2 linked regions of the Homo sapiens genome follow. The protein of the gene in region 1 interacts with the protein of each later gene in a pairwise test. Each region holds a gene or a part of one and is shown on either strand. Other genes may lie near its edges.

Region 1 (3,620 bases):
TGCTAACTCTTGCATCTCTGAACCAAGTGCTGGGGATCCAAGAGTTTGACTAGTTATCTCTGCCAACTTGGTGACCTGTTGGCAATGGAAAGGGTATGTTTTACTTTCCTTACAAAGGTATTAAAAAACTGCCTGTCCTGGCCAGGTGTGGTGGCTCACACCTATAATCTCAGCACTTTGGGAGGCCGAGGTGGGCAGATCACTTGAAGTCAGGAGTTCGAGACCAGCCTGACTAACATGATGAAACCCCATCTCTACTAAAAATACAAACATTAGCTGGGCACATGCCTGTAGTCCTAGCTACTCGGGAGGCTGAGGCAGGTGAATCGCTTGAATTTGGGAGGCGGAAGTTGCAGTGAGCTGAGATCGCGCCACCGCACTGCAGCTTGGGTGACAGAGAGAGACTCCATCTCAAAAAAACAAAAAACAGAATCCTGTCTTTGCTTTTCTACCCAAAGCCGCTTTTTAAAAAAAATGTTCACCAGACTGGTTAATTCTCACTCAAGTTGTTTGGAGGATATGTGGACATATGCCTAATAGGATAAACTATTATTAATACCCTTTTTAGGAGGGGAGAGTAGAAGTGACCTGAGACCCTATAGTCTTTACCGAGCATTGTTATAGCAACTACTTTAAAATCCATTGTCTGCTAATTCCAGAATTTGGGTAATTTTAAGATTGATCTTTATTGATTTCCTTTCCTCCTAAGTATGGGTCATATTTACTATTCTTGTATGGGTGTTAATTTTGTATTGTATCCTGGATATCGTGAATGATACATTGCAGGGTACCTGGATTCTGTCACATTCCTCCAAAGAGTGTTGATTTTTTTTTTTAAGTGGCCAGTTAACTTGGGTGAAACTCTGTCTCTTGTAATAAGTATCAGCTGCAATCTCTGTTCAATTATTTGAATCTTAACTTGGCTGCTTGGTTTCTGCATTGCCCATGCATTGTTCAGAGAACAACTAGAGATTTGGACAGAGCTTATGTATAGGATTCAGTGTTTCTCCACTGTGACTCTCCTTTCCAGCATAACCCCTTTGCATTCCAGCTATTACGGTAACCCCAACCTCTTCCTTCTAGCTATTCATGTTGGCAAGATGGCAGGTTTCTATCCCAGATATGGCACTGATTGGGGTTGCCCTTAGGCCTAAAGCTATACAATTGAGAAACTCGCCTACTGTCATTTCCTTCTTCCAAGTGTCAATAACCCTCCATTTTCTATCTGCTCTTGGTTAATCTCCAGTGCTTTCAATGGTTGTCGTCGATATTTTGTCAAAAGCTTATAGTTGTAATCTGGGGAAGGATGGTCTTTCGGGTGCCACTCTTGCAGTTATCGGAATTGGAATTTCTATATGTTTCAAATATAATATGTTGTATGTCAAACCAATGAAGAAAGGATGGGTTATTTAATAAAGATGCTGAGAAAGGTGGTTAACTTATTGGAAAAAATTAACTCTTTGTTTTATGTCATATAGCAAAAAATATTCTAGATGGAAAATGATAGTAAATAGTGTTATCTACCCAATATCCATTCCTCCTTCTTTAATAATAGAGTCTGATTTTGTTCAGGACAGCAACGTAATCATTTTAAAATGCTCATCTCCCTGAGATTTTCTTGCCGTAATAGGCCATGCAACGTAATAGTTCTGGTCAATGAGAAATCTAACAGATGAGGTTTCTAGGAAAGATATTGATTTCCAATAAATTAGATGGATTCAGGTGGCATGCAACTTTTACATTTTGCCCTTCTCCTTTCCTCCTAAGGAACCTCAGATATGATGGCTAGAATTGTAGCAGTCAGTTTGTGAACTTTAGGAAAAGCTAATGTTAATTATAGTGGAACAGAAATGTGGAATGACCTTGGATTCTTGAAGACGTCATGTAAGTCCACCAAAAGCAGCCCTAAACTATTACCTGAGAAGAAGGAATCTCTCTTTGTTAAGTTGCAGTGAGGTTTTTGACTTCTTTCTTTTCAACTGGGATACCCTTTATTTCTTTCTCTTGTCTAATTGCTCTGGCTAGAACTTCCAGTACTACGTTGAATAAAAGTGGTGGAAGTTGGCATCATTGTCTTGGTCCAAATCTTGGTGGAAAGGCTTTCAATTTTGTCCAGTTCAGTAAGATATTAGCTATAGGTTTGTCATGTATGGCCTTTATGATGTTGAGGTATATCCCTTCTATACCCAATTTGTTGAGGGTTTTTATTATGAAGGGATATTGCATTTTACCAAATGCTTTTTCATCATCTACTGAAATGATTATATATTTTTGCCTTTGATTCTGTTGATGTGATGTATCACATTTATTGATTTGCTTATGTTGAACCATCCTTGCATCTTGAAGATGAATCCTACTTGATCATAATGAATGATCCTTTAAAATGTTGTTGAGCTCTGTTTGCTAGTATTTTGTTGAGGATTTTTGCATCTGTGTTCATCAGGGATATTGGCCTGTGGTTTTCTCTTTTTTGTTGTATCTTTAGTTTTGGTTTCAATGTTGGGACACATCCTTAAAAGGAGAAGCCAGTCTCTCCTTCCCAATCCTTTGTCCTTCTTGGTGTCTGAAGGTGGATGTAATGGCTATGGCTCCAGACCTATCTTGGACCATGAGGTAGAAGCCACGTGTTGAGGATGGCAAAACATTTAGATAGTTTAGATAGAAGGAAGGAACCTGGGTGACCATGGAGCTGCCATACTATACTGGCCCTATACTGCCTACCTTCAGACCTGATTTAAATTTTAACTTACTTGTGTGTGTGTGTGTGTGTGTGTGTGTGTGTTTTCCGAGGCAGAGTCTTGCTCTGTTGCCCAGGCTGGAGTGCAATGGCATGATCTCGGCTCACTGCAACTTTTGCCTCCCAAGTTCTAGTGATTCTTCTGCCTCAACCTCCCGAGTAGCTGGGATTACAGGTTTGAGCTACCAAACCTGGCTAATTTTTGTATTTTTAGTAGAAACAGGGTTTCACCATGTTGGCCAGGCTGGTCTTGAACTCCTGATCTCAAGTGATCCACCTGCCTCGGCCTCCCAAAGTATTGGGATTACAGGCATGAGCCACTATGCCTGGCCTAAATGCTAACTTATTGAATCCACTATTATTTTAGGTTTTCTGTATCTGAGAGCTGGACTTACTTCTTATTGATAGTTATCCTCACTTCTATGCAGCCCATGTGCCAAAAGAAAGCTGACATCATTCCTAACTGCAGGTATGAGCTTATGTAATCTATTTTATCCCATTCTTCTTACTCATGATTGATACAGGAATGGCCATGTGGCTCATTTTGGACCAATGAGATTTGAAGAAAATTTTGTTGGAGTGTCTCAAAAAGTTATTGTTTTTCTGGAAGAGTTTCTGAGAGTAGCAATCCTCTTTTTCTTCCAACACATTTTTTGTGCATTGATATGGGGGCTGGAATTGCTGCAGCTATCTCATTGTCAGCCTGAGGATGAAGCCACACATGGAAGAGAGCAGAGCCAAGAGAATCACGGGGACACTGAGCTTCAGCCAAGTCAACTGTGAAGCCTGCCCTACATCTGGACTTCCAGTTATGTCAATAATTTTCCTTATTGTTTGAGACAAAAATAGATCCACATTACTTATCAGAATAGCATAATAATTA
Region 2 (3,828 bases), on another chromosome or scaffold:
GAAGTGAGGAGCCCCTCTGCCGGGCCAGCCACCCCGTCCGGGAGGGAGGTGGGGGGCTCAGCCCCCCGCCCGGCCAGCCGCCCCATCTGGGAGGGAGGTGGGGGGGTCAGCACCCCGCCCGGCCAGCCGCCCCATCCGGGAGGGAGGTGGGGGGGTCAGCCCCCCGCCCGGCCAGCCGCCCCGTCCGGGAGGGAGGTGGGGGGGGTCAGCCCCCCGCCCGGCCAGCCACCCCGTCCGGGAGGTGAGGGGCGCCTCTGCCCGGCCACCCCTACTGGGAAGTGAGGAGCCCCTCTGCTCGGCCAGCCGCCCCGTCCGGGAGGGAGGTGGGGGGGTCAGCCCCCCGCCCAGCCAGACGCCCCGTCCGGGAGGGAGGTGGGGGGGTCAGCCCCCGGCCCGGCCAGCCGCCCCATCCAGGAGGGAGGTGGGGGGGGTCAGCCCCCCGCCTGGCCAGCCGCCCCGTCCGGGAGGGAGGTGGGGGGGTCCAGCCCCCCGCCCGGCCAGCCGCCCCGTACGGGAGGGAGGTGGGGTCAGCCCCCCGCCGGGCCAGCCACCCCGTCCGGGAGGTGAGGGGCGCCTCTGCCCGGCCGCCCCTACTGGGAAGTGAGGAGCCCCTCTGCCTGGTCAGCCGCCCCGTCCGGGAGGGAGGTGGGGGGTCAGCCCCCCGCCCGGCCAGCCGCCCCGTCCGGGAGGTGAGGGGCGCCTCTGCCCGGCCGCCCCTACTGGGAAGTGAGGAGCCCCTCTGCCCGGCCACCACCCCATCTGGGAGGTGTACCCAACAGCTCATTGAGAACGGGCCGGGATGACAATGGCAGTTTTGTGGAATAGAAGGGGGGGAAAGGTGGGGAAAAGATTGAGAAATCGGATGGTTGCCGTGTCTGTGTAGAAAGAAGTAGACATGGGAGACTTTTCATTTTGTTCTGTACTAAGATAAATTCTTCTGCCTTGGGATCCTGTTGATCGGTGACCTTACCCCCAACCCTGTGCTCTCTGAAACGTGCTGTGTCCACTCAGGGTTAAATGGATTAAGGGCGGTGCAAGATGTGCTTTGTTAAACAGATGCTTGAAGGCAGCATGCTCGTTAAGAATCATCACCACTCCCTAATCTCAAGTACCCAGGGACACAAACACTGCGGAAGGCCGCAGGGTCCTCTGCCTAGGAAAACCAGAAACCTTTGTTCACTTGTTTATCTGCCGACCTTCCCTCCACTATTGTCCTATGACCCTGCCAAATCCCCCTCTGCGAGAAACACCCAAGAATGATCAATAAAAAAAATAAAAAATAAAAAAAAAACCATGTAATTAAATATTGTAAACTGTGGATTCATTTAAAATAACAGAGATCTGTATTTACCAATATGGAAAACTGCTCATGGTTAATTTTTTTTAAAAGCCAGTTATAAAACAGTCTATTATATAACCCCATTTTCATTTAAGTATTAGAAGGATATATACATACATGTATATATTCATATAAATTTATATATGTGTACAGAAAACACATACCAAAATATTAATTGGTTATATCTCTGGTTATATCTATAAATGACCTGTTTCCTTTTAAGACTTTCCTATTTTAAACTTTATGCAATGAACACACAAACTTCCAGTCAGAAAAAACGTACTTTAAAAATGTTCAGGCAGGGTGTGGTGGCTCACGCCTGTAATCCCAACCCTTTGGGAGGCTGAGGCAAGCAGATTGCTTGAGCCCAGGTGTTCAAGACCAGCCTATGCAACATGGCAAAACTCCATCTCTACAAAAAACGCAAAAATTAGCCAGGCATGGCAGTGTGTGCCTGTGGTCCCAGCTACTTGGGAGGCTAAGGTGTGAGGCTACCTTGAGCCTAGGAGGTTGAGGCTACAGTGAACTGTGATCATCCCACTGCACTCCAGCCTAGGTGACAGAGTGAGACCCTGTCTCAAAAAAAAAAAAAGATCATTACATTTGATTTTAAATATACACAAATTCACATCCATTCATTGAAGTAATATTTTCAGAGTACCTGTGGAACAGGTACTATGGATACACAGGGGAACAAGATAGTATCTGTTCTCAGGATGATTACCATCTACTGGGAAAGCAGACAACACAGATAATTGTGTTACCTCATTTGCTTCACTCTGTTGCTGTTCCTTCTTTTTTCTTCTTTTCTCTCTTTTTTTCTCATTTGTAGTTGACTTGCTTCCTAAAGTTTGAGACTTTCCAGTATTTCGACCTTTACCTTTTCCAGGTTCAGAATCAGAGCCACTGCCACTATCCACTTGTAACAGGGCAAAACGAGAAGCGGTGGTGGGAACAGAACTAAGTACTGCTGAGGCCATCGTAAAGATTTTTCTTTTAAAATACTTCTGTCAAGAATAATTTCTGTGGGGAGGCAGAAGAGTAGGCAGATGGGTAAACAAACAGAGTAAAATCTGTTGTAGATTCTAAAACAACCATATGTAGATAAAATAAATTTCTTCTGACACTGGATTTAGTAAATTTGGATTAATACCCACAGCACTATTAGCAATAACATACTTTTATATTTAAGTAAACGATATAACATTTTACAATAGAAAAATATGAGATTTCACAGATATAATGTACTCATTTTTCCATGTATACTTTAAAAATTCACAGTCTTCCTCTCTCAATCATTCTGAAATATATACATAGTTATAGAGAACATCCTAAATCAATATGGTTTACAGTGGAAAAGAATATCATTTTTTCATGATACACAAAAAAAAGACCTTTAGTCCAACTACATGTTAACTCCCAACTTCCAATACAAGAAAAAAAGGAGTAAAGACGGAATACCACTCTTATCATATATAAAATACTACCATAGGTTTGATTCTAGAGACTGTGATTTAGAACTGACAGCAAAAATAAAGAGCTTAAATTCTCTCAACCAAAGGAAACTTTTCAAAATGCCTTCCACATTATGTTTAGTTCACTAGTTTCCATGCAAGCATAGGTCAGTGTAGCTTCATTCCATGTGCTGTCAGCTTTTCCACAACCGTTTAGACTTAGAAGGGATCTTAAAAGTCCCCTAGTAGTTCCTAATCCAAATCCTTTAGTTATACAGCTAAGGTAAGTGGAGTTTAAGTTGGTTATGTGACTTCCCTTAGTTCTTTCTGGAAGTTAGCGGCTGAGTCTCCACCTGGACCTAGATTTGTTGAACCTTATTCTGAAAGTCCAAATTAAGAAGCCCTGTAACAACCAGAAGACTAAGTGCTCTTCTAATTAAAAAAGACAAAGATTGTCTTAACAGAATGGCAACTCAGAAATTTGTATTTTGAAATGTTTCAGGTAAAAACTGAATATTCAATTTGAAAAAATTAAGATGAACACTCCAAGTAGCCAGCACAAAGGTTAACAAAACGTTAACTGACTCCTATGCTTCTCTCCAATTGCATTCCCCCACTGCACCAGCCAGAGATAACAAGTATCCTGATTTTTGTATAACTTACTCCTTTGCTTTTCTTTATAGTTCTATTCTATGCCTTGATTCACAGTGATCATATTTGAATGAACTGCTGTCATTTCCACAATATCCCACTGGTTACATATATATTTCTTACTATATTCACATTATCACACAGGTCCACCCTATTCATTGCAGGAAAGGGCTATGTAAAGGTGAATACTAAGAAGTAAGGATCATTAAGATCCATTCTGAAAGCTAACCACACATTATCGTTTGTATGTTTTCAGGAGGGAAGAAAAATGAGAAGTATGTATTCAATCTTCCACCTTAAGTAACCAGAAAAATATTTGGAAATCTTTCAAGTTTTTGGTATACAATGAAGAAAAATCACAGTAAGAACTGATGTCTGAAGATG

Evidence for each region.
Region 2: the proteins of HSD11B1 (region 1) and GKAP1 interact in a two-hybrid assay, tested with the Homo sapiens proteins (one large-scale study listed by BioGRID and IntAct).

Annotation. Positions count from the first base shown.
Region 1 is NC_000001.11:209,728,526-209,732,145, reverse strand, and holds part of HSD11B1 (11-beta-hydroxysteroid dehydrogenase 1), read right to left. Parts: intron 1-3,620. UniProt on the Homo sapiens protein: Controls the reversible conversion of biologically active glucocorticoids such as cortisone to cortisol, and 11-dehydrocorticosterone to corticosterone in the presence of NADP(H).
Region 2 is NC_000009.12:83,804,199-83,808,026, forward strand, and holds part of GKAP1 (G kinase-anchoring protein 1), read right to left. Parts: intron 2,363-3,828; 5' UTR 2,320-2,362; coding exon 2,104-2,319; intron 1-2,103. UniProt on the Homo sapiens protein: Regulates insulin-dependent IRS1 tyrosine phosphorylation in adipocytes by modulating the availability of IRS1 to IR tyrosine kinase. Its association with IRS1 is required for insulin-induced translocation of SLC2A4 to the cell membrane.